Linked DNA regions of Homo sapiens. The protein of the gene in region 6 purifies or fractionates together with the protein of the main gene of each other region. This does not show direct contact. Each region holds a gene or a part of one and is shown on either strand. Other genes may lie near its edges. The genes, in order: FNBP1, CMYA5, GCN1, HNRNPA1L2, EIF5, BZW1 and SMC4.

Evidence for each region.
Region 1: the proteins of BZW1 (region 6) and FNBP1 fractionate together in Homo sapiens (co-fractionation; one large-scale study listed by BioGRID). This does not show direct contact.
Region 2: the proteins of BZW1 (region 6) and CMYA5 purify together in Homo sapiens (affinity purification with mass spectrometry; one large-scale study listed by BioGRID and IntAct). This does not show direct contact.
Region 3: the proteins of BZW1 (region 6) and GCN1 fractionate together in Homo sapiens (co-fractionation; one large-scale study listed by BioGRID). This does not show direct contact.
Region 4: the proteins of BZW1 (region 6) and HNRNPA1L2 fractionate together in Homo sapiens (co-fractionation; one large-scale study listed by BioGRID). This does not show direct contact.
Region 5: the proteins of BZW1 (region 6) and EIF5 fractionate together in Homo sapiens (co-fractionation; one large-scale study listed by BioGRID). This does not show direct contact.
Region 7: the proteins of BZW1 (region 6) and SMC4 fractionate together in Homo sapiens (co-fractionation; one large-scale study listed by BioGRID). This does not show direct contact.

Annotation. Positions count from the first base shown.
Region 1 is NC_000009.12:129,896,644-129,900,941, forward strand, and holds part of FNBP1 (formin-binding protein 1), read right to left. Parts: intron 3,905-4,298; coding exon 3,783-3,904; intron 3,462-3,782; coding exon of another isoform or gene 3,459-3,461; coding exon 3,322-3,458; intron 1-3,321. UniProt on the Homo sapiens protein: May act as a link between RND2 signaling and regulation of the actin cytoskeleton. Required to coordinate membrane tubulation with reorganization of the actin cytoskeleton during the late stage of clathrin-mediated endocytosis.
Region 2 is NC_000005.10:79,730,989-79,735,286, reverse strand, and holds part of CMYA5 (cardiomyopathy-associated protein 5), read right to left. Parts: coding exon 1-4,298. UniProt on the Homo sapiens protein: May serve as an anchoring protein that mediates the subcellular compartmentation of protein kinase A (PKA) via binding to PRKAR2A. May function as a repressor of calcineurin-mediated transcriptional activity.
Region 3 is NC_000012.12:120,191,416-120,196,319, forward strand, and holds the start of GCN1 (stalled ribosome sensor GCN1), read right to left. Parts: upstream 3,301-4,904; 5' UTR 3,283-3,300; coding exon 3,265-3,282; intron 1-3,264. UniProt on the Homo sapiens protein: Ribosome collision sensor that plays a key role in the RNF14-RNF25 translation quality control pathway, a pathway that takes place when a ribosome has stalled during translation, and which promotes ubiquitination and degradation of translation factors on stalled ribosomes.
Region 4 is NC_000013.11:52,640,711-52,644,799, reverse strand, and holds HNRNPA1L2 (heterogeneous nuclear ribonucleoprotein A1-like 2), read right to left. Parts: upstream 2,370-4,089; 5' UTR 2,308-2,369; coding exon 1,345-2,307; 3' UTR 1,027-1,344; downstream 1-1,026. UniProt on the Homo sapiens protein: Involved in the packaging of pre-mRNA into hnRNP particles, transport of poly(A) mRNA from the nucleus to the cytoplasm and may modulate splice site selection.
Region 5 is NC_000014.9:103,336,794-103,341,091, reverse strand, and holds part of EIF5 (eukaryotic translation initiation factor 5), read right to left. Parts: coding exon 4,243-4,298; intron 3,977-4,242; coding exon 3,865-3,976; intron 3,244-3,864; exon of another isoform or gene 3,118-3,243; intron 2,766-3,117; coding exon 2,620-2,765; intron 2,358-2,619; coding exon 2,199-2,357; intron 1,921-2,198; coding exon 1,759-1,920; intron 1,454-1,758; coding exon 1,289-1,453; intron 666-1,288; coding exon 531-665; intron 130-530; coding exon 40-129; 3' UTR 1-39.
Region 6 is NC_000002.12:200,818,063-200,822,360, reverse strand, and holds part of BZW1 (eIF5-mimic protein 2), read right to left. Parts: coding exon 4,278-4,298; intron 4,139-4,277; coding exon 3,968-4,138; intron 3,607-3,967; coding exon 3,460-3,606; intron 2,380-3,459; coding exon 2,241-2,379; intron 1,179-2,240; coding exon 1,056-1,178; intron 215-1,055; coding exon 183-214; 3' UTR 1-182. UniProt on the Homo sapiens protein: Translation initiation regulator which represses repeat-associated non-AUG (RAN) initiated translation probably by acting as a competitive inhibitor of eukaryotic translation initiation factor 5 (EIF5) function.
Region 7 is NC_000003.12:160,430,650-160,433,051, reverse strand, and holds part of SMC4 (structural maintenance of chromosomes protein 4), read right to left. Parts: coding exon 2,309-2,402; intron 2,021-2,308; coding exon 1,847-2,020; intron 1,410-1,846; coding exon 1,227-1,409; intron 770-1,226; coding exon 537-769; intron 27-536; coding exon 1-26. UniProt on the Homo sapiens protein: Central component of the condensin complex, a complex required for conversion of interphase chromatin into mitotic-like condense chromosomes.

The DNA.
Region 1 (4,298 bases), on a different chromosome or scaffold from region 6:
TTTTTTTGTTGTTGTTGTTTGTTTGTTTTGAGACAGAGTCTTGCTCTGTTGCCCAGGCTGGAGTGTGATGCCACTTGTCCCGGGTTCAAGTGATTCTCCTGCCTCGGCCTCCCGAGTAGCTGAGATTACAGGCATGTGCCACCACGCCCGGCTAATTTTGTATTTTTAGTAGAGACGAGGTTTCACCATGTTGGTCAGGCTGGTCTTGAACTCCTGACCTCAGGTGATCCACCCGCCTCGGCCTCCCAAAGCGCTGGGATTACAGGCGTGAGCCACCACGCCCGGCCCAACTGCTCCTCTTTAAACACTGTCCTCACATATTGCTTCCATTCTGGTACTTTCTGCAGCCAAGATTCCACTTTTCCCACTGTCTGCAGCACACTGCCACCTAGACATGGCCCCAACACCTGAAACAACATAGATGAACCTGGATTCACTGTTCTTCCTCCTAACTATATCCTCCTGCTTTTCCACTTCCCTAGACCTCTCTGTCCTCCCAGGAATGCAACTCTGGGAGCCGTCTTGGATTTCCTCTCCTTTTTGTTCCTGGCTTTTGATCAGCCCCGAATATATGCAGTTTGTCAATGGCGGCATCTCTGTATCCATTCCTTGAACAAGGCCCCCAAGACCTTCTGCTAGGATCATTTCAAAGGCTGCCCACCACCCCCCAGTTTTCTGCAAGGCAAAGAGTTTAGGGAGCTGTTAACAGGGCAACAGGGTACGGTGGGGGATGGTTGGAATATGAAGTAAAACTGGGAACGTTTAAACTGGTACGTCTTTCTTATTTTGTCACAATGAACATTTAGTCTATTAAAGGCTCTGAAAAGTCCTGTAGTAAAGAAATCTGTAAAATTTATTTATCCCAGGGCTTCCCAAACTTACTTGAGCTCTGATTGCTAGTTTTAAAAATTTATTCATTATATTAAAATGCAACTTTTTCGTAATTTTATTTATTTATTTATTTATTTTTTAGAGAGGGTTTCACACTATCGCCTAGGCTGGAGTGCAGTGGTACGATCATAGCTCACTGTAGCCCTGAACTCTTGGCCTCAGCCTCCCAAAGTGCTGGGATTACAGGTGTGAGCCACTGAGCCTGGCCTGAGAGCTTCTTTCATGGCCTCCTTATTAACGCTCTGCAGGACATCGTTTCAAGGTTCATTGGTTTAGAAACACTAAGCTAGTTTATCTTTTCTTTCTTTTTTTTGAGACAGAGTTGCCCTCTGTTGCCCATACTGGAGTACAATGGCACGATCTTGGCTCACTGCAACCTCTGCCTCCTGGGTTCAAGCAATTCTCATGCTTCAGCCTCCCGAGTAGCTGGGATTACAGGCGCCCGCCACCACGCCTCACTGATTTTTGTATTTTTAGTAGAGACGGGGTTTCATCATGTTGGGCAGGCTGGTCTAGAACTCCTGACCTCAGGTGATCTGCCTGCCTCAGCCTCCCAAAGTTCTAGGATTACAGGCGTGAGCCACCATGCCCGGCCTGGGCTAGTCTTTCTAACCATCCTCCATGTCTTCCAGTGGATCCTACACATCTGACGATGACTTTCCTAAGGTACAGCTCTGACTGCATCGACACCCTGCTAGGGGACCTCCCATAGCTCCTCAATGTTTGCCACATAAAACCCAGATGTTTCCCTACCTCGCCCCCATTGGCACTTCCCACTCTTTAGTGCCACATTTCACTATTAGGACTTAAGACATCTAAGCTCCAGCCACACCACACCCATTTCTGGCCACACCCCCCATGCCATGGCAAGTTCTCCAAACTTCCTTAAGGAAGCGACCTCATTCTCCCCTGTCCTCCCCGTTCCTCTGTATCCCTCTTCTGGCAAACACTGCAAACTGCCTGCTTTTTTTTTTTGAGAGGGAGTCTTGCTCTGTTGCCAGGCTGGAGTAAAGTGGCACGACCTCGGCTCACTGCCACCTCCGACTCCTGGTTTAAGTGAGTCTCCTGCTTCAGCCTCCCAAGTAGCTGGAATTACAGGCATGCGCTACCACGCTTAGCTGATTTTTGTATTTTTAGTAGAGATGGGGTTTCACCATGTTGGCCAGGATGGTCTCGATCTCCTGACCTCACGATCCGCCTGCCTCGGCCTCCCAAAGTGCTGGGATTACAGGCGTGAGCCACTGCACCCAGCCGCTGCTTGCTCCTTAAGTGTGTCTGCCTGATTTCCCTCTGGGCAGGTGCCATATCATACGACCTGCATCCCCCCACTTCATGGGCCTTTACAAGACAGGAGCGCTATAGATACTAGATATTAAATGAATGGATGAAATGATCATCCTCCCTATCGTCTGCTGCAGTGAAGCAAGCTCTCTGGAAGCTGTTAAGTTATACGAACCAAAAGTCAAAATATACAACCAAATAATAATCATACCATGAGTAGGATAAAAGCATAGTAGAGAAGGATCTGGAAGGCTGCTGCTGCAGCTTTTTTTTTTTTTTTGAGACAGAGTCTCGTTCTGTCACCCAGGCTGGAGTACAGTGGCGCTATCTCAGCTCACTGCAACCTCCGCCTCCCGGGTTCAAGTGATTCTCGTGCCTCAGCCTCCCGAGCAGCTGGGATTACAGGCGCCTGCCAGCATGCCCAGCCAGTTTTTGTATTTTTAGTAGAGATGGGATTTCACCATGTTGGCGAGGCTGGTCTTGAACTCCTGGCCTCAAGTGACCTGCCCGCCTCAGCCTCCCAAAGTTCTAGGATTACAGGTGTGAGCCACCATGCCCGGCCAGATCTGGAAGGCTTCTAAAGAAAGTTCTGGTCACAGAAAGAGAAGAGTGTGGCTAGGCACAGTGGCTCACACCTGTGATCACAGCACTTTGGGAGGCTGAGGCAGGAGTACTGCTTGAATCCAGGAGTTCAACACCAGCCTGGGCAACATAGTGAGACCCTGTCTCTACTGAAAAGTACAAAAAGTACAAAAGTACAAAAATGAGCCGGACATGGTGGTGCTTGCCTGTAGTCCCAGCTACTCAGGAGGCTGAGGTTGGAGGATCACTTGAGCCCAGGAGGTCAAGGCTGCAGTGAGCCATGATTGCACCACTGCACTCTAACTTGGGCAAGAGAGCGAGACCCTGTATGAAAAAAAGGAAGGAAGGAAGGAAGGGAAGGAAGGGAAGGAAGGGAAGGGAGGGAAGGGAAGGGAAGGAAGGAAGGGGAAGGGGAAGGGGAAGGGGAAGGGAAGGTAGGAAGGAAGGAAGGAAGGACAAAGGAATAAAAATGATCAGAAGGAAGGAAGGAAGGAAAAGTGAAAGAAGAGTAACTCAGATATTATGGTTTATAAAAGGCAGGGGAATCCAGCAGACATGAAATGTCACCTTCAAATGTGTAGAGAGCTTTGCACGTCCCTATGGCAGGGAGGGGCTCCTCATCATCAAACTCGTCGTCAAAATCCGTGGCCAGCACCTTCATCTCACTCTCCTGACTCTGCTCCTCTGTGTAACTGCCATCTGGGCTGCTCAAGAAAGGAAAACACAAAGCAACTAAAGCGACTGACCCCAGGGAGGACTCAGATTGAGTCCCTGCGACTGGAGAGCACTTGCAACCCCGCCCCTCAGCGAGTGCTGTAACTGAGGCCATGGTAAATCATCGCACGCTCAGATCACCCATCCCATGTGGAATTATAAATCTGCATCATGGAAAAAGTGACAGGTCAATCGCAACAGACATTTTGGCATTGAACAAGTGCCTTATGGTCATTCCAGATTCCAAAATTTAGAAATAAATACAAAGCCAACAGGCTCCCTTGCCAGAGGCAGGCGCTGTGCAGATACTGTACCTCTCACGGTCCTGGGCGCAGTTGTTGACTGTGGGTGGGTTCTGGCTGTCGTACAGTCCGCTCTGCCGGCGCGCCTGCTCGCTGCGTGCTGGGAGCCGGCCTTCAACCTCAGCCAGCCAGGCCTGGAGACAAAAGCAATGAGAGACTCCAACCTAAGGCCATCTGAGGGTCAGCCCAGAGTGTCCTAAGGTCCCAAAGGCCATCTGAGGGCCAGCCCGGAGCATCCTAAGGTCCCAAACTCAGGGGCTACTCTTGGCCATTTAACCCAATGTGAGGAAGTCCACGTGGGGGCAGAATGGCCACGTTTTCTGCCTTCGACTGTTCAAATGTACTGAAGGACGGTTGCTTCCATTTCACCCGAAGTTGGAGACATAGAAACAAACTCATATTTATGTGGTTGCCCACGATGGGGCAGAAAGCACACTGGACTATGCTATCCCCTTGGGCTTTTAAGCAGCAGTGCAGTCTTGGATAAGTCACTTCTAGTTCCTTCTTGACCATGAGGTCGCCCTGTGA
Region 2 (4,298 bases), on a different chromosome or scaffold from region 6:
CCTTTCTTTCCCTTTTCCTCAGGAAGGTCCGGCTTAGCCACCTTTGGTTGTGTAGGTGGATTTTGTGTCACCTCAGGTGACTCTGGGGATTGAGGCTCTCTTGCATGGATTGAGGAGATGGGTTTTCTTTGTGTGGGTATTTTTACTTCAGGTGATGGTTTCTTTCCCTCATCAGCATCATCAATAACCTTTGACTGAACCATTTTTGATTCTTCCAATGGCTTCTCTTCAGGAAAAGGAGGTGTGCTCCTGTGTGCTTCTTTTTCATTGCCCAATGCAGGTTCCACACCTTCTGCCGGGAAATGGGCTGTTTTGACAGAAGAGGAGATTGTTTCTGACTTCACCTGTTCCACTGATAGGCCAGACACTGGTTTCTGGAAGAATCTTTCAGGAGGTAGTTTAATTTTTTCCTGGCTATCTTCTTTGGAAGGCCAGGAAAGCTCTGTGTTTGCTTTCTCCAATAGCAAACTTTCACTCTCCATCAAAGAATGAATCTCCTTCCCCTCTGCTATGTTTCTCTCTACATTTCCAGCTAGGACTAAAGACTTTGGTTCTTCAGCCAGCTTTACTTCTTCAGAAGAGTAACTTTTACTTGATAAGGTCTCTGTATTACCACTGGAAGTATCAAGAGCAGATACTGCTTCTTGTGATGACAAATGAGATTCTTCAGCAGAATGCGGCAGGACCTGCTTTCTCACTTCACATGTATGGTCCTTACTGGACACAGCAGCCTTGAGCTGCCCTGGCCTCAGCTCATTGCTGCTAGAGGAATCCAGCTGCACAGATCCTGCTATTCTCTGTTCGTGTTGACTAGCCACATTTTCTGGCTTTCCCAACATCCAGTTTTCATCCTTTGGAGAAATAAAGAATTCTTCCATTTTTGTTTCTTTGACATCCGCAGGCTTGGTTGTCATAAATGATTTTGATTGTTCCAAAGGCAAATTCTCTCTCATAAGTGAAAACTGCTTAATACCCAGATCTTGTTTATCTTCAGAAGAGGTGCTTACATCAGGTAATTTAACAGTTTGATCTGAATGAAGTGCTTTTTCTGTCTTTTTTTGTTCTACAAGGAGGTCAGAAGGAGCAATCTTTGATGGTTCTGTTATACTCTGGAGTACCTGGGATGAATTTGGGTGGCCTGTTTCTTCACTTAGCTTATCTAAAATATCTCCCATGACTTGTGCCTTCAAATTTCCAGTTGGTGGTAATGGGCCTATTTCTTGATTTCCTCCCTTTTTAAAGTCGGCTGGATGGCTAACCTCCTCTGATAATCCTTTTAAAGAAAAAGTAAATGGCTGAAATTCTTCTGGGTTGCCTCCTTCAGCTACAGAGGCAGGTGGTTCTTTCGACTCTAGGCTGATGATCTTGGGAGAGAAAGGTTTAATTTCTTCATTCTGAGATTCCTCCCTAAGCAATGATGAAAGCTCTGAAATTGCAGGCATCGTAGAAGATGCACAAAGCTCTCTATTTTCTTCTTTTCCTTCTCTGCTCCTAAGCTCAGCTGGGCCTTTTTCTAAAACAGAATCCTCTGTTTCAGTTATGGGAGACTTTGCTTGTTTTGTACCTATGGATCCACTTTGTCTACCTAAATCACTAGAAAATTCTGACCCAGCATTTGGTAATTCCAACGGTTGGTGTGGCTTGTCTTTCTTCTCAGGTTCCAAAGACAGCTCTGCCAAAGCAACATCTTGTTTTTCTGATGGGAAGTCTCCCTGAGCTGTAGAAGATACCTCCACTGCCGGTTTGTTCTTATCATCACTGAGGAGCAGTAATGTTGGGGCTAAACCTGATGCTAAATTTTCCAACTCAGGAGATGAACTTGCTGTTTCCTCATCTTTGCCTTTTGGGATTATATGTTTGGATGCAGGTGACACATTTTGTGATGAAGGAAGTTCAGTTTCTTTCTTCTTTATCTCACCCCATAGGCTGAGTGGAAGCTCATGTTCAGGCTCTAACACCTCTGAGGTAGACATCAAGCTCTTCTTCTGTGATGAAACCAAACGTTCAGAGTCACAGACTGTAGAAAATAAAAGATCTTGTTTGTCTTCTACCCTTGCTTCCTCAGATTTATCTGAATGCTGAGAAGATGATGTTTTGATTACTGGCAACCCAGCTTTAACTTCTTTGGCTTCTACTTCTGACAAAACAGAATGCTCTGCTATAGAGGAGACACTTGGAAGTGAATCAAATTTAATTTCCTTCTCTGCTTCTGACCAAGCTAAATGTTTGGATGAAGTTTCAATGGGAGAAGCACCTTTAATTGCCACCTTGTCTTCTTCTGCAAGAACTGAATGTTCATCTGCAGATGTTACCAGTGGTGGCAAACCACTTCCTAATTCACCCTTTCCTACTTTTGTTAAGACTGGACGATCTACAGGAGTGATAAGAGATGAATCTGTTGGGATTTCTTCTTTTACTGCTCTGGTTAAGTTTGAATCAAGCTTAGTTACAGATGCTGTAGTTGTTGAGGAACTGGGTTCAATTTCTTTTTTAATTTCTTCTGACAAAGCTGAAAATGCTAGTGCAGGTGGACCATGTTCAACTTGCTTTTCCACTCCTGAGGAAGCTGAATGAAGCACTATAGGTGTAGTTGTTATTTTGGAATCATGTTTCATCTCCATTTTCACTGCTGATAAAGCCTCAGGTCCAGATAAAGATGTTTCCTTTAGAGGTGAATATGGTTTTATTACTTCAGGCTCATTCTTGGACAACTTTCTCTGTTCTAGTTCAGAAGTCACATTTAGAACTAATTTGGGCTTGACACCCTTCTTTGGCTCATCTACCATGTCAGGCAAAACTGAATATTTCATCTCAGACTCTGGAACATTTGGAGGCTGAGGCTCCATTTTTTGATCCTGTGATACATGTGCTGTAGCTTCTTGAGAATCAGGCACAATTTCTTCCTTTCTGACTTTTGACAAAGCCATCTGTTCATCTGCAGCTTTTAGAGTGAGTGCTGCTGTGGGTTCCTGTTCTTTCTTGATTGCAGGGACTGAATCAGGTAAAACTGAATGTGGAGATGCAGGTTTGGTTTCTTCCTTTACTATAGATGATTGTGCAGGTAAAGCAGCAGGTATTGCAGCTACTGATGAACTTGCCTCCCTTTCTCCCTTCTCCACTTCACTGGTTAAATGTGAAGGAATCAAGTCTTCAGACTCAGGCTCTAAATATGCTTGAGTTTTCTGCTTCTGTGCCAAAATGAGATATTCAGATACAGATGTTGAGGTTGTTGGAATCTCTGGCTTAATTTCTGCTTTCTCTGATTTATCTGTTGAAGGCGGCAGACTTAAGTCTTCAAGCGGAGACATCAAAGGGAAAGTTTCAGCTTTTTGCTTCTGTGATGAACTGAACTGCTCAGATACAGGTGTAGCAGCTGTGGATCCAATGTCTTCCTCATCTGCTTCTGAAAAGCAGGAATAACCTGAAGCAGACACTGCAGTTAATAGTGAATCAGGCTCAAGTTCATTTTTCTCTGTTTCTGAGATTCTAAAGGGAGGGATTGAAACTTGTGATGCTGAGTCTGGAGAGAACAGTTCCGCTTCTTCAGTGTCTTCATCTGACAAAATAGTGTGCTCAGATGGTGATGTTAAACATATTGGAGAATCGCACTCAAATTCTCTTTTCTCTGCTTCCTGGGTTGCATACGGTGGAAATGAGAATTCTGACACAAATGCAGAATCTGGAGAAAAAGGTCCAATGTCTTCTTGATCTTCTTCTGATAAATTCATGGGTGAGGATGCACCTTTTAGATTTAGAGATCTATGGACAATTTCTTCCTCCTGTGCCTCCGGTGTTGCATATGGTGGTACTGAAAATTCAGAAGCAGATGTAGAAGAGGGTGTGTATCGTTCCAACTCGACTGCCTCTTCGTCTGATAGAACAACATATTCAGATGGGGTGGCTGAAAGTGGTGGGGCCTGGCATTCAGAAGTCATCTCGGTTGTGTGTGGTGGGAAAGAGTGTTCAGATGCAACAACCAAATCTGGGGAAGATGGTCCAATGACCTCCTTGCCGTCTACTGACAGAACTGTGTGCTCAGAAATACCTTTTGGTTTGAATTGGGATGCCTCATTGATTATTTTCTTTTGAGATTCCTGTGTTGCATTGAGTGGGGCTGCATATTTGGAGATCAACTTTGAATCCGGTGTGAAACGTTCACTTCCTAGGTCCTCTCCTTCTGATGGGACCACGTGTTCTGATGTGGCAGTAGAAGGCAGTGGTGACTGGCATTCAGAAGTCTTTTCGGTTGTGGATGGTGAGAGAGAGGGCTCAGAAGCAGGGGCCACAGCTGGAGTAAA
Region 3 (4,904 bases), on a different chromosome or scaffold from region 6:
ATTCTACAAGCTACCAAGTGGACAGGTTGTGGATTCATAAGCCGTAGAGCAGGGCATGATAAGGCTCATGTAACTTAACACAGTGGGGTTATCATGTTTTTCTTTTGAGGGTATTTCAAAGGCAGGCCTTATCAGTAGCGTAAGAGTCAAGCGTACACACAGAAATAAAATAATGCTGAGTTTTTCGTGCTTAAATCCCTGCCATAATTCTATTGGCAATGAATAAAAGAAACTGATGTCCAAAACTGTCTTCTACATAAATAATGTAGTTTTAACTTTAAAATGTCTTTTGTTTTTATAGTCATAGATGCACACAGAGTCAAAACCAAAGAGTTCTGAGAAGTCTGCCATAAAAACCAGTCCCTTGCCCTCACTCTCCATGGGCAACCCTTAGGTTGATCTGGTGGATATTTGGGTAGTTACCTCCATATATCTAAGTATCTCTAAATATGGAGGTAACTTGCATGTGCTTCTTGATTTTTCAGTTTTGCTACCTTTCCACCACAGCTCCCTTTCCTGCTGTGACCCCATCGCACACCCTCCCCATTTCCCCAGTGGAAGTCCCCAGTTTCACATACAGGCTAGGTCAGTAGTCAGTGATTACATTATATGTAAATGGCATTCAACATCCATTTAATAAACTCTGATTCTTCCCAGCTTTTTTATGCCCCTGGTGTTAATAATTACCCTTTCCCACCTCACTTCAGTTTGACTTGTTTTATCTGTTCTTATAAATAATTAAAACCCAAACTTTTTGCCATTTGTCTAAATCTCAGTACATTTAGGGAGATCAGGTATTCCATCAAATTCCACCTTCCTAAGGAAATCTCTCCCAGAGTTTTCTGACCTGCCCCAATTAGGCATGTGATCCTCTACAGCTGGGGCACAGTTTATCACCCTGAACATGTACTTTCTTGTGTTTGGGTGAAGCACAGCCTCCATTTTGTAAACTCCTTGCAAGTATGAAAATGTTCTGGCCAAATACAGAATTCTAGGTTGAAATCATTTTCCTTTAGAATACTGAAGACAAGGCTGGGTGCAGTGGCTCACGCCTGTAATCCCAGCACTTTGGGAGGCCAAGGCAGGCAGATCACAAGGTCAGGAGATCGAGACCATCCTGGCCAACATGGTGAAACCGCGTCTCTACTAAAAATACAAAAAAAAAAATTAGCTGGGCGTGGTGCCGGGTGCCTGTAATCCCAGCTACTTGGGAGGCTGAGGCAGAAGAATCGCTTGAACCCGGGAGGCAGAGGTTGTAGTGAGCCAAGATTGTGCCACTGCACTCTAGCCTGGGCGACAGAGCGAGACTCCGTCTCGAAAAAAAAAAAAAAAGAATACTGAAGACAAGGCCGGGCATGGTGGTTCACGCCTGTAATCCCAGCACTTTGGGAGACAGAGGCGGACAGATTGCTTGAGGTCAGAAGTTCGAGACCAGCCTACCCAACATGGTGAAACCCTGTCTCTACAAAAACTAGCCGGGCATGGTGGCGCATGCCTGTAATCCCAGCTACTCGGGAAGCTGAGGCAGGAGAATTGCTTGAACCTGGGAGGCAGAGGTTGCAGTGAGTTCAGATCGTGCCATTGCACTCCAGCCTGGGCAACAAGAGAGAAACTCCGTCTCAAAAAATAAAATAAAATAATAAAAAATAATTTCAGGCCAGGTGCGGTGGCTCACGCCTGTAATCCCAGCACTTTGGGAGGCCAAGGCAGAAGGATCACCTGAGGTCAGGAATTCGAGACCAGCCTGGCCAACATGGAGAAACCCCATCTCTACTAAAAATACAAAAATTATAAAATACAGAAATATTCTCCTGCACCACCCAATACGGTAGCCACTGGCTACATGTGGCTAACTGTGCACTGAAATGTGGCTGGTACAAGTGAAGAACTAAATTTTTTTTTTTTTTGAGACAGAGTCCCACTCTTGTTGCTCAGGCTGGAGCGCAGTGGTGCGATCTCAGCTCACTGCAACCTCTGCCTCCCAGGTTCAAGCGATTCTCATGCCTCAGCCTCCTGAGTAGCTGGAATTACAGACATGCCACCATACCCGGTTAATTTTTTGCATTTTTAGTAGAGACGGGGTTTTGCCACGTTGGTCAGACTAGTCTCAAACTCCTGACCTCAACTGATCCACCCGCCTTGGCCTCCCAAAGTGCTGGGATTACAGGGTGAGCCACCACGCCCAGCCAAACAATGAATTTTTTTATTTAATTTAATTTTAACAAACTTAAGCCATGTGGCTGCCATACTGGACATTGCAGCTCTAGAGATTTTTCCCTCAAGTGAGTATCAATGTTAAACATTCAGCATGTATTCCCCTAACCCTCTCATACTAAGCTTTTCTTTCTAGTATTCAGTACAACATAACTTGAACATCAGCCACCTGCATAGGAGTCTCAGTAAATGTCTTTTTGAATGCTTAAGTGGTCATTTTCTGGGCCTACACATAAAAATCAATCCCATCACCCTGGAGACACCAAATCAGCCCAGCTGTCCTTAGACACCTGTTCTTCCCCTGCCTCATGACAATGTCTTTTCACCTTAAAACATAACAACTGGGTGGAGGAAAAGGTTTTCCCAGGTCCTTCCTGAACTACAAGGTACCCATAGGTAACACTCTTCCTGGACAGGACAGTTCTTTTCACTAACCCTGGATCTGATAACAACCAACATATATCAAGCCGTATTTTATCTCACTGAACCTTCACAACAACCTTTTAAGATAAGTATTGTTTTAACTTCATTTTATAGATGAAAAGGCAGACTTGGCGGGGTTAAGTCACTTGTTTGGCATGTCACAGAAATCGACGAGCAGGAACTCAAGCCCAGATCTGTATGAATCCAAAGACTACACTCAAAGTCCCTGCTCATAGTAGGTGCTCAAAGAATATTTGCTGAATACAAAGTTTAAGGAAGACTTGGCGTTGGCCCGGGGCTCACAGCCGGAGGGCTTTGGAGAAAAGAAGTAGAGGCTCGGTAAAGTGAACTTCTGCAACTCTGGGGTCGGGCAAAGGCCCCGCCGAGCTCCAGCTGCTGAAGTCGAGGCGGGAGCCCCGGACTCCTCGAGCCCGCGGTCTGCCTGCGCCGCCCGGGCCGGGCCAAGCCCGCAGCCCTGAGAGTCCAGCCTGAGACGGCCCCGAGACTACGACCTCCACAGCCACCACCTCCAACGCCCCTAAGCCGAGGAGCGAGAGGGGCCCCGCCCGACGGCCACCGTCCGCACCCAGTCCCTGGCCGCGTTGGCCCCGCAGCCGCCCGCCTCACCTGCGTGTCCGCCGCCATCCTGCCGGGGCTGACTCCGGAACCGCTTCCGGAACGCTTCCGGGTCACAGCGTGGCCCACGCGGCAGGGCGAGGCCGGGAGCCAGCGGGGGCAGGGCCCCGGGCTTGGTGCCCCCGGGCAGGACGGCGGCCGCTGCAGCCCGGGCAGCCGGATCACGGGCTTAAAGTTGGCCCGCGCCCGAGCCACAAGGCCTCCTCCCCAGGGCCCGCTCTTCAGCCCCGGGCGCCTCGTGGGAGACTAGCGCTTGTAACGTGGTGAGCCCGCGGTGTAACGCTATGGGCCCGCCTTGCAGCCCCTGACCCACTTCCAGCCCGCAGGGCCAGCCCTACGTGGGCCTTTCCTGAGTGATGACTAAGTTCTTTAGAAAAACAAGTGTTGCTTCCTAGATAGCAGGAACTAAAAACTAGGTAAAAGAGTCGGTGAACTAGTCTTTTGTCCTCAGTTTGTAGTTCAGTTGGCGGATGACTTGTACAGGGTTAGCAAACGTGGCTGGATACGGAGGTCAGGGAAGGTTCAGAACTGAACGAGGCCCCTGCCCTGGGGAAATGCTGGACGCCCCAGGCTGGGAGTTTTGAAGGCCACAGGGCAAGAGGCTACGTGCAGACGTGGCTGCAATTTAGGGAACAGGGTCTCCACAGCTTAGTTGTCAGCCCTGTTAGCAGTGGCTTTCAAACCTTTGACACAGACCTAGTTAGAATGAATATATCATGTTCCAGCAGACAGATCTCTAAGTGAAATACAGGAATCACAACAAAAACACCTATTCTCAGCAGATGCTGCTTTCTCTTTAAATACTGGGGCCAGGCATGGTGGCTCACGCCTGTAATCCCAGCACTTTGGGAGGCTGAGGTGGGTAGATCAACCTGATGTTAGGATTTCCAGACCAGCCTGGTCAACATGACAAAACCTTGTCTCTACTAAAAATACCAAAAAAAAAAAAAAAAAAAAAAAAGGCCGGGTGCGGTGGCTCACCCTTGTATAATTCCAGCGCTTCGGGAGGACAGGGCGGGCAGATCACAAGGTCAGGAGTTCCAGACCAGCCTGGCCAACATAGTGAAACCCCGTCTCTACTAAAAGTACAAAAATTAGCCGAGTGGTGGCACATGCCTGTAGTCCCAGCTACTGGGGAGGCTGAGGTGGGAGAACCGCTTGAACCCGAGAGGCAGAGGTTGCAGTGAGCTGAGACCATACCATTGCACTCCAGTCTGGGTGACAGGACGAGACTGTCTCAACAACAAAAAAATTAGCCCGGTGTGGTGGCAGCCTCCGGTAATTGCAGCTACTTGGGAGGCTGAGGCAGGAGAATCACTTGAACCCAGGAGGCGGAGGTTGCAGTGAGCCAAGTCCAAGCCACTGCACCCCAGTCTCAAATATATTTGAGACTATCTCGAAAATATAAATTGGTTACCACCGAGTTGGAGCACCACCCAGTTTGAAAAACTTTACTCTAGGGGACTGGCCCCAGCATCCACCAGGTGCCTATCTCAGCTGACACTAAACCTACTCCAAGTATGCAGCAGCCATAGAAACAGTAATTCTAGTGTAATAGTTACAACTGTGTCTAGAAAACTGTATAGGATGTTTGATTGGTAGCTTCATTTAGATACCCAAACATCAACACC
Region 4 (4,089 bases), on a different chromosome or scaffold from region 6:
AACCAGCATGAGATAACCTGTGCTGAGCAGAGTGGGCTTGAAATCAGATCTAGCGGAGTGATTTGGAAAGTACAGCTTCAGGGGTGTTTATTTGCAAAAGCCCCTTCAAACCCTATCTAATTTGTTAATATAATTTTGTACGTATTTTTCCTAAATAAATCCCCTCCCCACTCCCACAACCCCAACAAATTGTGTAAATTTTGGCCCCACAAAACCTGGATTTGTCCTTAAGTAGGTCTTTCTTTTGGGTTACTTAGAATTCAGCTCCTTCTTATGTCTGGGGAATTCCTTGAGTCTTCCCACTGAGCCAGTCTCCCTCTATAAAAGCTGAAAATGCCAAACAACTTAAGCTGAACTTGCACATACTTTAAAATTGGTAACTGGTTAGCAACAACAAATCAAGGAAGGACCTTAGTGTATCCTCTCCAGATGCAGTAGCACATGTGTCAAGATCAAATTCCCAAAGCAGCAGATAGTGTTACAAAGCAGTGTGTCAGTGCTTGGCAACAGTGGCTACAATCTCCTCACCCGACCAGTTATGCAGTATGGTTCCAGGATTTATTCCCAGCCGTGTGGCTCAGACTGATGCTGATTCTCTAGTCCTTTTGGCCATTCTGCAAGCAGCACAATATTCTTCTAATACAATTTATCTTATGCTGAAAACCAGAATCCATCTCTGTTGCTTACGACTAAGAATCCAAACTGATAGACAATTTGGTATTTGGAAGTGGAGTGCTACAAAACAGACCTAGAATGGTGTGTAATTGGCCGGGTGGAAAAGGCAGGATGGAGGGCATTGAGACACAACTGTTTCGGGCTGGGAAACTAGTGACTCTGAGACAGGACACCAAGCTCACACCATCAAGAAATGTACTCTAAAGCTGAGCAGCCTTAGAAAGAGTCTTCTTCCCAGTGCTCATATTAGATGTGGCTGTTGAGGACAAAACACCAGAGAGCCACAGCCACCAGATGAAAAAGCAGCCTACGGATTCCACCAAAGATCTTTTTTTTTTTTAGAGACATTTATTCAGCGTCACAATCAGACTATTACATTTAGCAATCAACAGCATGGGTGCAAAAAAAAAAATCTACATTAAAACACTTTGTTGGAATGCTTTACACTTTCCACAGAACAGAAACTAAAATAACCTGTTATACAATTAGTCACAAATACAGTCCTCGAGTTTTTTGCCCATACACATGAGTATTTGTCTAAAACATGTCTTCTTTGTAGCAGCTAGGCCCTGCCACCACTGTGCTTGGCTGAGTTCACAAATCTGTTGTAACCTGTAGCTTCCCTGTCACTTCTCTGGCTCTCCTCTCCTGCTAAGCTTTGTTTCCTAATTAAAATCTTCTGCCACTGCCATAGCTACTGCTGCTGCTGGAAACGCCATAGCCACCTTGGTTTTGTGGTTTTGCAAAGTATTGGCCTCCACCGCCATAGGGGCCAGAGCTTCTGCCTCCAAAATTTCCTCCCTTCATGGGTCCAAAATTTGAAGACTGATTGTTGTAATTGCCAAAATCATTGTAGCTTCCACCACCTCCAAAATTGCTTCCATCATTACCAAATCCATTATAGCCATCCCCACTGCCACCATATCCACCACCACCACAGCTGCCACCAAAGCCACCACGACCACTGAAGTTTCCTCCACGACCAAAGTTGTCATTCCCACCGAAACCATCTCCACGACCACCACCAAAGTTTCCAGAACCCCTTCGACCTCTTTGGCTGGATGAAGCACTAGCCATCTCTTGCTTTGGCAGGGCTTTTCTAACTTCACAGTTGTGGCCCTTCACAGTATGGTATTTCTGAATGACAATCTTATCCACGGAGTCATGGTCGTCAAAGGTTACAAAGGCAAAGCCCCTTTTCTTGCCACTGCCTCGGTCAGTCATGATTTCAATTACTTCAATTTTTCCATACTGTTCAAAATAATCTCTTAGGTGATGTTCTTCAGTGTCTTCTTTAATGCCACCAACAAATATCTTTTTCACAGTTAAGTGGGCACCTGGTCTTTGAGAATCTTCTCTGGAGACAGCTCTCTTTGGTTCCACAACTCTTCCATCCACCTTGTGTGGCGTTGTATTCATAGCTGCATCCACCTCCTCCACAGTGGCATATGTGACAAACCCAAAGCCCCTGGAGCGCTTGGTGTTTGGATCTCTCATTACCACACAGTCTGTGAGCGTTCCCCATTGCTCAAAATGGCTCCTCAGGCTCTCATCAGTTGTTTCAAAGCTCAACCCTCCAATGAAGAGCTTCCTCAGCTGTTCGGGCTCTTTTGGAGACGCTGACTTAGACATGACGGCAAGGTGAAGAGAGACTTTAACGATGCTTCTTCAGCGGCGTCCACGGGCAGAAAAAGTCCACCAGAGATCTTAGATATGAAGCTGGATAGAGTATTTGGATGAGATTCTGGCTGATTCTCTTTGGGAAATAAATACATTTTTCATATGGGCCTGAACATTTTTTAGTGTATGTACAGGAAGAAAGACAAGTATACATAACAGTAGGATACTTCATTCCTCCCTTCTTCCTTGCTGTGAAGCCCTAATTTTGTTTCTCCAGCACATGACTAAGTCATTTGTGGTAATCCCACATCCCACATTGTTGGGATCACCAACCCCACATTGTTGGCCATATTGGCAAACAATATGGTTTAAGAAGGGGTATATAACTAATCTAGCCAATTGGGCCATGCATGAGGTGTCTGCTCAGGGATTCTGGGAAAGGTCTCCTTATTGATAAACAGAAACACAGAATAAATTACTGCAGCTACCTTTAGCAATAGCCATCCTGGAAGACCAAACCAATATCCCAAGGAAAGTGAAAGCATAAGGATGGAGAAACCTAGTTCATCAGTGATACCAGTGAGCTCCTGAGTTAACCAACCCAGAAGCCTCCAAACTCCTGACTTTTTGTTTTGTATTATTTAATAATTTTGAGTTGGGTTTTTCTGTTTGCTTCTTGCAATTGAAAACATTCTTATTCTAATTGCTATTATGTCTGGGAGTGCAGAATTTGATCATAAGGCTGGTGAGATAAAGAAGAGGTGAGACCACATAGGGCCTCAACTCCATCTGAAAAGATTTAAAAAACCACTGAAGGCTTGACATAATTAGACTGACACTCCTATTGCACTGGGGAGAACAGATTGGAAGCGGACAAGTTGAAAACAGAGAATAAGAACAGTGACCTTTAGACAAAACTTGGGAGAACTCCAATCTTTGAAAAAGTCTCTGGAGCAACCCAAAGGGAACATCAGGAAATTATTTTTTACATGGTAAAAGGGGGAAAATATTACAGAAGCAGGATAGGACAGTTGGGCACTTCAGATTGGGCAAAACTGAAGGCAATAGAGAGTTTAGAGGAAAAGTGAGTTATGAAAGGTTATCAATTGATCAAGAGGTCCAGGAAGAGAAGGAAGGATGGGATTCAGCAATATGGAAATTGGTTACTCTTAGTGACCTTTGTAACAACAAATTCAGGGTAATAAGTCAAATGCAATACTACAGAGGGTTAAAGAATAAATGGAAAGTGAGGAAGGCAGCAAGTTTACAGGTTAAGGACAATGACAACAGCATCACAGGTCCTTCTTTAATAAACAATCTTGAGTCAATGATTTGGTGTGGAGAGGCCAAGTACTGACAGCCATGTCTTATTCAGGAGTTGATGACTAGATTATGTTAGGGCTACAGAGAGTCAAGATGTAATATCGGGACAGATCATGCTGGTCCTTGTAAACCCTGTTCAGAAGTTTGCATATTCCTTGTAAGAAATGATGGTAACTTAAACTAAGGTAGAAACATGAAGACAAATGACAAATTAAAAGCTTTTGAGGAGGTAAATTACCTGGGCTGCATGATTGATTGGACGTGGATATCAGATGTGACTGAGCCATGGAAGTAAATGAGATTGTCAAAGAAGCATGTGCAGTGGGAAGAGAGCCAAGAAAGGAATCTTAAGAAATACCAGGACATAAGGCAGAGCTCCCCAACTAAGGTACTATGAATGGTTATGGGTGTGCCCAAAATACTGATCCCTTTAGTCTAAATGGACGGTGAGAGCCACTGGCTGGTCACCCG
Region 5 (4,298 bases), on a different chromosome or scaffold from region 6:
TGCAGCATTATACTGTTAAGCTAGGTTGCATCCATCCCTTTAAATGGCATCAATATCGATGTCGTCATCCTTGTTGTCTGACTTTACAGTCTCAACTTTCGGTACACTGGCAGCCTTCGAATACACCACCTGTTAAGAGGAATGATTTTATTCAACATAAGCTGATAAATCTGTTTATAAAACAAATCAATGTAAATTGTGGTCACAGAGGAGGAAACTGCCTAGATGCAGCTATTTCTTCTTCACGGAACAGCTCTGTTATGCAAACACTGCAAGTTCTCTTACACAGGCTCCAGTCTAAGAGCATTTTTAAAGTTTTTTTATAGACTATAATGTGTAGGAGTAGGAACACAGTTTCCATCACCCTTTCTATTATTTTCCAAATTATTGAGAGGCTGTATTTTACTGCATCTTAAATTCTAAACCTGAAATTACCCCAAACTGCCATTATATCACTCCTCACAAACCTTTTTAAATCTCAAACACCCATGCCAGCACTGTATCCAATACCCTCCTCCCCCAATGTTTACCTCAATGTTCTCATCTTCATCTTCTTCTTCGCCACCAGAAGATTCTTCCTCTGCCTCCTTCAACCATTTTATAAATGGTTCTGCTTTGACACGAATCTCTTTGGCAAGTTCTTTGGAGACATATTTCTTAGAGGCCTAAAAAATGTGAGTACAAGTCTCTTAGTTGAGGAATTTTAACAACTTTTGATTATTTATACAATCCCCCTTACTGAGCTGAGGGGACTGGGTCCTAACAAGTCTGAATCCTCAAACAGAATCAATGTACTCAGTGAACACGTTAGTCTCAGCAGTCTGTTATGACTACAAATCTGACATGATGCGAATCACAATCTACAGCACAGGCACTGAACTTTAGCTATAGATATTAAGACATTTTTTCTTCATCTCAAAGCCGTCTCAATACTTGTGAACGGCTGGGCGCAGGAGCTCACACCTGTAACCTCAGCACTTTGGGAGGCCAGTGGATCACCTGAGGTCAGGTGTTCGAGACCAACCTGGCCAACATGGTAAAACCCCATCTACTAAAAATACAAAAATTAGCTGGGCATGATCGCAGGTGCCTGTAATCCCAGCTACTTGGGAGGCTGAGGCAGGAGAATCACTTGAAGCCGGGACGTGGAGGTTTCAGGGAGCTGAGATCATACCACTGTACTCCTGCCTGGACAACAGAATGAGACTCCGTCTCCAAAAACAATCAACCAAACAAAAAAACCCCCCAAAACCTGTGAACTTTAAGAGCCCACCTATGTATTCCCCACCTTTTCCGACCAGCTGATGATGACCTCTTCTTCTAAAAGGTCTGCATCGTACATCTCCTTCAAGATATGTGGAATCTTGGAGATAAGCTGAGCTTGATGCATTGCTACCACACACTCCAAACCATGAAGAAGGTACCGTTGGGCTTTTTTGTTGTTGTGACAAAACTGCAAATAGACACCTTGGTGTTAACAATCTTTTTTATGTGTTCTAAGTTGACAACTCTATTACCCAAATAAGAGTGTCTGCAAGTGCATGGCCCATACCATAGTTGTTCAAAAAGGTCAATGCATAAACATCCCTGTTACTTTGTAAGGGCCTAGGTATGGCACTTTCAGATACTCAGAGGCTTGTAAGGTGGGTCAATTTCCCCACTTTCAAGCATGACAGGACAAGCAAAAGTGGTTAATATGACCATCTCGAAAGCCACACAACTGTAATCTCATTTATGAATCCAGAGCACTTTGCTTACTCGTAGGAAATGGCGCCTGTATTTCTTAATCTGTTCTCTAATCTTCTCATTAAAAAGAACTTCAGTTAGAACAAGAGGGCCCATGGCTTTTACATCCAGTCTTTCTGCTTCAGCAACGATTTCTTTGTCAGATGAATCAATAACACCCTCTTCTTTCTTTTTCTGCAAAGAAAAGGAAAACAATTCAGTGCAATGGAGGCACACTTTGCCAGGCTCAAGACACCAGCCAGTCCCTGCTCTGATGAACATATTTTTCCTGCCTAATTTGGCAGTTGTGACACATAGTGCCTGGAATCACGCGCAAAAAATATTTAAATGAACAAGAGTTCTAAAAAGTCGTGCATTAGAGTAATCCTAATTACACTGCTAAAGTATCATATATCTAAAGGCACAAACAAGGCTGGGTTGAAGCTGATTTACAGACCAAGCAAATGTTTTACCTTAACAAAATCAAAGAGGATATTGACCCTCTCCTCAATTGTTCTTTCCAAATCATCACTGAGTGTCAGAACTTTTGCATGGTCACTGATTTCATCCATTCGACGCCTTTGAGCTTCCTCAGTTGTATCTTCTCCCCAGTCATCATCCTCCTCTTCTTCCTGTTTATGAAAACAGAGCTACTTGATCAAAGGCCTTAAAAACAACAACAAAAAGGTTCAGATTTTGCCAAGTTAATGGCATCAAGTCCATCTCCATCCAAAATTGGGTTCACCTTAATTCAAACAACAAACAGTACTTGGAATCCACAATATTAGTGTATTACACACTGAAGGCTAGTTTCAACATTTCCACCCACCTCAACCAAATGCCATATACTTTACACAACTTTAGTGCCCACTAGGCCATCAACCCTGCACTCACCATTGTATGTGGAGGAGGATTAATTTCATTTGGTGGTGGTGGTGGTGGTGGTGTCTCACTGCTGGATACGGAGCCATTTTCCTTGTCTTTGCCCTTTCTGTTTTTCTTTTCTTTTTCTTTCTTTCCTGTACCACTGTCACTATTCTCTACAGAAAAAAAGGGAAATAAAAATTTAACCCCATAACTTACATTACCTCATTGCCCATCATTAACGTTTAAAACCCTGCCCTTATTTTCCTATGGATCCCCTCAGAAAAACCACACAGCACACACAATGCTACCTAAGAGGCTTCACAGATCAAATTCATCATGTATTTCATACGTAAGAATGTTAGTCTAAGAATGGAGTGACACAAAATATTAGGGGTATTGTAACTGCTAAGAAAGAGTAAGATGAAGTGATGATGCCTCCACTAGGGAGAGGTGGCCCTAAGGATCCCTGTCATCCCTCATGAACAAAGTCATTAACTCAACCCAGCTTTAGCCAACAGGTGGAACACTGTTTAAGTCTATATAACGGCTTGTCTCATGGGAGAGAGAACACCGGAATAGGTTAGACTTTCTTGCTATAGCAAGCTCAAATTGTGTCAGACAGTTTTGATCATCTGCCACAGAGTGTTGCTTGCAATATTCAAGTTTAATGAAGGGGGCCCTCTTTACCAAACAATGCCAGTAAAAGAAACTTTGCTGGGTTTCCAGCAGAATTTTAGTCATTACTTCATCTACCCTCAGATAATGTCTTAATTGATATGGCACAGTTTAATTGGCAGCCTATTTTTCACCTTTAATGGTAATTAACAATACACTTTTGAAAGATGTCTTAGATTTGATAAAATATAGTACAAGGACTAAAAGGTTCCTTATATTGTTTTTTTGAGACAGAGTCGCTGTTGCCCAAGCTGGAGTGCAGTGGCACGATCTCAGCTCAGTGCAACCTCTGCCTCCAAGGTTCAAGCGACGCTCATGCCTCAGCTACCGGAGTAGCTGGGATTACAGGAGCACACCACCATGCTAAGCTAGTTTTTGTGTTTTTAGTAGACGGGTTTCACTATGTTGGCCAGGCTGGTCTTGAACTCCTGGCCTCAAGTGATGTGCCCGCCCTGGCCTCCCAAAATGCGGGGAATACAAGCATGAGCCACCGTGCCCAGTCTCCCTTACATTCCTATTACAAAAAAACCTTCTATTTTGTTCCCAACAGTTAGTAACTTATCTTAGGATCTTAGGAGTTCATCATGGAAGACTCACCAGGTGGGTTTTTGAGAATGAATGTGCAGAGTTTATGATGTGTGTCAAGCATGCCTCGATAGCCACAGGCTTTACAAGAATTACCTATTGTTTGCTTCTTTGGATTGACATGCTGCCAAAAAAATAACAAATGTTATCCATAATATAACATGAAAATATCTAATCAGAGGACATCTAAACCACAGACAGCTTCACATGCAAAGAAAACTTTTTTCACACAGTGACCTACTTTAAAAAAAAGAATGGAAATATCTCGAAAACTGGAGTTTTGTGTTTGATTTAAAATTACATTTGCTCTGCCTTCTCAGGAAGGTGACTTAGCGGTATCACAGAAGCAGGTATATGGCTTTTTCTTTCGACAACCACAAAAGCACTTACCAAATCTGTTTCAGGATTCTCACATTCAGGACAGAGAACAAATTTTTTAATGAATC
Region 6 (4,298 bases):
GTTTTAGAAACTAAACCCAACATTTCCAGCAACCATAGAAACAGTTAAAATAAAATTTGCCATGAAAGCCCTTATATCATGCTTGATACAGGGAGGTAGGAAGATGTAAGAACCAGGACACATGAGACATGACATTTTATCTACAACTCCTGTTTGCTTTACTGAGGGTGTAGTTTCAAAATTCAGTCACCTTCTTCAGCTTCAGATTCAGATTCTAGAAAAGGGGAAAAAAACAGTCAAACATTATGTATCAGAAGGCAAAAGTTCCCATTTATAACTTTGAAGCTTCTTTAAGACAGAGTCTCCCTCTGTCCCACAGGCCGGAATGCAGCAGCACCCTCTTGGCTCACTGCAACCTCTGCCTCCCGGGTTCAAGTGATCCTCCCACTTCAGTTTCCCAAGTAGCTGGAACTACAGGCGCCCACCACCAAAACTGGCTAATTTTTTATTTTTAGTAGAGACTGGGTTTCCCATGTTGTCCAGGCTGGCCTCATACTCCTGGCCTCAAATGACCTGATCGCCTCAGCCTCCCAAAGTGCTAGGATTACAGGCGTGAGCCACCACACCCAGCCTCCATGTAACTTTGAAGCTGTTAACGAATTTTATTAATAACCTATTTACATGAGGCAGATATTCAAAAGCATTCACTTGGAAATCCCAACATTTGGCTGGGTGCAATCACATCTGCAATCCCTGTACTTTGTGAGGCTGAGGCAGGAAGGTTGTTTGAGCCCAGGAGTTCAAGACCAGCATCGGCAACATAGTGAGACTCTGTCTCTATATTTTTAATTAAAAAAAAAAAGAAAAGAAATCCACAAATTTATAAACATTAAATATTCTCAAAATTTTCCATTTCATGAAGAACATTTACTATTATGGCTGAGCCATAAATATACTATAATAATTAAACTCTAGCTTTCGCCACCTGCCTTATAACAAAAATCTCTACTCCAGGTACAAAATGGCATCAGAAAGAAGGAAGCATGTGTGAAGATATATTATGGCCACATTAAAATTAGCTTTACCAAACAAACCACACAAAGGAAAATCCTTACCTTCTTCAGCATTTTTGAGCCATTCTACAAACTTTTTCATTTGCTCAAGGAAAACACTCTTCCCCTTTGCAACATGTGCATCTTTATACCACTTCAAAATGGGCTCCTCGCTCAGGACTTCAGCTGGAAAGAAAACTCATTGCATTAAGGGAGTTTTAATATACTCTACTCAGCGTTAGAACCACCACCTAATGTGCAAATGCCTGCTTAGCAAACAAACTGCTGAAAAGCTAAAAACATCCATGAGAAATGGAAGATAATAATACATGTGCGCATACCAACTACACTCAACGGGATCAAGACTGGTCTGATTAGTGCAGAATTTCAAAGTGTTATGACCAACTGCAATGGATTTTCTCCCAACAGAGGTCTTGTCTTTACTAGCCACTTTAGACCAGGTTTCTAAAATTGGGATCAGGAGAAAAGGGAACAATATAACTGAAATTGGGGTTGCTATAGAAGCACTCTGAACTGGTCTTGAAGGACTACGGAAAGTCAACACTGGGTGGGGGAGTAAGATGAACAGAAGCAGGATTCACACAGGCTGAAGACTCCAGAGCTATGACTACATAGCTAAGACTACAGACTGTCTGGAAAAGGGACTTGGGGATTTTTTTTTTTTGAAACAGGGTCTCACTTGTTGCCTAGGCTGCTGGAGTGCAGTGGCACAATCATGGTTCACTGCAGCCTTGACCTCCTAGGCTCAAGTGATCCTCCTACCTCAGCCTTCTGAGTTGCTGGGACTACAGGCTTGCGCCACCATTCCCTGCCTAATTTTTTATTTTTTTTGTAGAGATGAGGTCTCCTTATGCAGTCCAGGCCGGTCTTGAACTCTTGGGCTCAAGCGATCCTCCAGCCTCAGGCTCCCAAAGTGTTGGGGTCACAAGTATGAGCCACCACACCTAGCTGAACTTTGGGAATGTATACCTGGTTAAGAGTATAGGAGGCAAGTTTGAGGACGCATAATGATGGCTTTAGATTTCATACTTCAACTTGTGAATAGGGTTTAGATGTTTTAAACAAGTATCAGTGCACTAAAAAGCACCCAATTTAATCAGAGGTGACTCATAACTAGAAGTAAAATATTTCAGGGAGCTGATGTCCAGATAACTCATCATTTGGATAATTTTGTGTTTATAAGGGTTTTTATTAAGTGTTATTTACAAAATTCAAAATCTAAATTACCTTTATAAAAAAGCACCACTATTTTCTGGAAGGCTTTCATGAAATGAATGTTGTCATAGCAATACTCCTGAATCTTCAGTAACAGAGTCAGCTCAGACTGACCTTGAGTAGTAAAGGCAGCAAGTAGAGGGCTGTATTGCTTTTAAAGGAACAGAGAAAAGATTTAGTCATTCATTACAAATAACCATCCATTACAAAACTCCTACAATACAGACAATATAGAACTTAACTCATCTTTTATAATCACTGCAAACTATAACTTATTTACCAGAAATTTAAAAAATAGGCTGGGCACAGTGGCTCACGTCTGTAATCCCAGCACTTTGGGAGGCCGAGGCGGGTGGATCACTTGAGGTCAGGAGTTCGAGACCAGCCTGGCCAATATGGTAAAAGCTCGTCTCTACTAAAAATACAAAAATTAGCCAGGCACTACTTGGGAGGCCGAGGAGGCAGAACTGCTTGAACCCAGGAGATGGAGGCTGCAGTGAGCTGAGATCACATCACTGCACTCCAGCCTGGGTGACAGAGTGAGACTGTCTCAAGAGAAAAAAAAAAAAGCAGAAAATCTAAGTAGCTAAGTAAAATAAACAATACTATACCAAGTAGTCCAAGTAAATGTCAAACAATATTAGTATTTTAGAGGGGGGGAAAAATTCCTATTTTCCAATACCCCCTTCAAAAGCAAACATCTAATTACAAGCTGAAGTTCCTTTTCATCATGTTCTTTTTTTTGAGGCAGGATCTCACCCTGTCACCCAGGCTTTGTCTGACAAAGCCATCATAAGCTCACTGCAGTCTTGATCTCCAGGGCTCAAGAGATCCTCTGCCTCAGCCTCCTGAGTAGTTGGGACTACAGGCATGCGCCACCACGACTGGCTATTTTTTGTGATTTTTAGTAGAGATGAGGTCTCACTATGTTGCCCAGGCACGTCTTAAACTGAGCTCAAGCAATCCTCCTGCCCTTGCCTCCCAAAGTGCTGGGTTTACAGGCGTGAGCCATTGTGCCTGGCCAGGCCATATTCTTGTTTTTAACCTGTGAACCACAGCCCAATTCAGAGCATTATCATCAATAGCTAATGTTACTATTTGTTTATTTACTGGTGGGCCATCCCTAGGAACCACAGGATGTGATAAATCCTCTTAGAAAAATATAGTCACAGTTCACTTATCACCACGTGAAAGCAGAATAGTTTGTTTTGTCAAGGCATAGTTCTAATACCTTCAAGTGCTTGATGGCTTGCTCTGCTACAAGCTCCTCTTTTTTGTTCCATTCCACAGTGCTCATTACACTTGACCAGACTATTCCGATGACAACTGGCTCTGGGATGTTGTTTTTTTTCATCTCCTCCTTGACATATAAAATTATCTGCAAATGAATCCAAATTTAGTAACAGAAGTCAGTTTTGATTATGTACATACTTCACACATCAAGTTTAGACCTTTAACAAAAACTAACAACTCCTTTTCCATGCAACTGGCAACCACATGTGTACCACATATAAAAAGAGACCTTTACAACTGAAAGGTGCCCTGAGCTCCAGTCTCTTGTATTTCTGGGCCTCAGTCAGGCACTGAAGAAGCATATGCAAAAGAATGAGGCAAAGTTCCAGTATAACATCCTGTTACTATTAACTCAATCTCATCCTGGTGAAGTAAGTTCCTCAAATTAGTGAAAATCTCTATGCCAGAAGCTTAGCCATAAAAAGACGGTTTAAACAAAAACTTACATCCTTAAATGGATCACCACGGGACATCTGTTCTTGAAGTTCTTTCTGGAGCTCCTTACGAGCTCCGATGGTTTGCTGATTCCGAACATATTCTGAAAGCTCTTTCAAGCCTGCCTCAGTAAAATATTTTGTGAAGTGTTCAACACTTTGCTTATTGGCAGGAAAGAGTTCCTAAAAGAAGAATTTATCTGGTTAAACTTTCTTTAAATCAGATTAAGAAAAACACTTTCTTTTCACAGTCTTAAAAATGAGAAATTTCTCTCATTTACATCCTTGGCAAGAATGGGAAGAATGAAAAAAAGTTACCAACCATCAGTCTGTTATCCATGCT
Region 7 (2,402 bases), on a different chromosome or scaffold from region 6:
TCCAACTTTTCTTAGGTGGTCGAACACTGAAATGATTAAGAAAATCATAGTCAAATTACCTGTAAAGCTAAAGTTAAGACTTTGTGATTTGCTTTCCATAATTGAGTTCTACTATCTTTTTTAGGAATCTGTAACTTGCTTTTCACAAATATGAATTCTCTTTTCTGTTATTTTATAAAAACGTTATTGGAGGATGCATACATAGGAGCACATACCAAAGTTTTAAGATTTAAAGAGCAAGCTAAGTATTATACTTCTTGCTATTCTTTCTCCTTATCAAATACAATTTCTCAATCCTCATGTTAAAAATGCCTTGAAAATTTAAGAAAAGATGAACTAGACAAATATTTTGTAAATACTGGCTGTCTGCCCCTGTAAACTGCAAGCATAAATAGCATGCAAGCAAATTAGTATTTACTAGTAAATGAAACAAGTTGTACATCTTGCCTTCACATCCTACCTCCAAGAAATACTGAGTTTGGAGAATATGTAGAAAAAGGTAACAGTGGGATTATAAACTCAGCATAATTACACACCTGAACATGATTCCTTCAGAGAAAGGATCCAAGCTGTCTACAAGCTCGAGTTCGGCGTCCCCTCCCAAAGTAAGCATTTGGTAATTTTCCTTTAATTTATTTGTTATTATATAAAAACCTGCCATAAATTCATTAAGCCTTTGTTTCCGAAGATCTTCATATGCCTGTCTAAAACTGTCTCTTTCATAAGTAATTTTGTCCAATTCTGCTACCCGTTGCAAATACAATTCTTCCTGTGAAAAGATTATGATAGGGAAAATCTATTCAGATAAATTTGATATGATAATTAGCATTGTTAATTATTACTTTGTTTTGAGACGTAGTCTTGCCCTGACGCCCAGGCTGGAGTGCAATGGCGCGATCTCGGCTCACGGCAACCTCCACCTCCCAGGTTCAAGCGATTCTCCTGCCTCAGCCTCCCGAGTACCCGGGATTACAGGCACGTGCCACAACGCCTGGCTAATTTTTTGTATCTTTAATAGAGATGAGGTTTCACTATGTTGGCCCAGCTGGTCTCGAACTCCTGACCTTGTGATCCACCCGCCTTTGGCCTCCCAAAGTGCTGGGATTACAGGCGTGAGCCACCACGCCCGGCCAACAGCATTGTTAATTATACAAAACTAAAGATCAGAATTTAGGCTAAGGACTAAAAAGAACTCCAACTAGTATACATACACAGTTCATTCATACCTTCTTTTTATACTCTGCGATGGCACCGAGGTTTGGTTTCATTTCATGACACCGGGCTTCCAAAAGTGCAATTTGATTTGTTATAGAATCTGGATTCTTGATCGCTTCAAGATCCTCTGGGCTTAGAACCGAAATCTCTTCAATAGGATTATCTTCTATAGGATGCAGTGATATTTTTGAAATCTAAAAGTTCAATTTAGGGGAGAGTTAGAGAAGGCATAATATTACATACAATTCATTGTTTAAAAAAAAATATGACAAATTACACAGCTATGAAAACAACAGGAGTTGTGACTGATTTATCAATTATTTTTCAAAGGACTTCAAGAAAAATAGTTGTAACACTCAAAAGTGTCCATGTAATCTTTTCTTAAATGTCCAGATCAGCCCTAGGGTGAAAGGGTAGTTGTCTAATTCTAATCGTTACTCAGACTTTTCTGTATATAACAATTTATATTGTTATGTCCCCTATAAACCTTAGAAGTGATCACAGAATTAAAAATCACAATGTAGCTCACAAACAAAATTTAAGAACCCCAACCCCCTAAAACAATCCTCCCCAAACCCTCCTTTTTCATAAAGAATATGTTTAAAATTAAACTAAACGGTAACAATCTCACCTCTTTGTGCCAATATTTTATTTTAGAATTATGTTCAGCAATGTGACCATCTATTTGTTCAAGTTTCAACTTAATACTAAGTGCATCTTTTTGAAGAGCATGTTCATTTTCTTGAATAACTTTTAATTCTTGAAGCAGATTGCGATGTTCTTTCTGGATCTCTGGTAAGGATTCCTAAACACCGAAAAGAACTGCTAGATAGAATTTTCCAAATAGAGCCATCATTTTCACATTACAGAGATGAAGGAATTACCAATCTCTCCTCATGCCCCTTCCATTTTAAAATAATTTAAGCATTTAAATTCACAAATTATAGTATTCTTATTGTACAAATAAAAATTGATAGTTATAAAACTTTAAGTCTATGAGTGCTTACTACATTCTAGGCACTGTCATATATCCAGCTCTTTAAATTGGTTCCAGTATCATCCCATCTCCTCTTCAATACAAAGCAACTCATACCTCTGCAGCATTTGTATTCTTTACGACCTCTGCTGCTTTGTCCTCAAGACTTTTCAGCTCTGCTGTTAGGTCATCCACCTCTTTCTCAGTATCT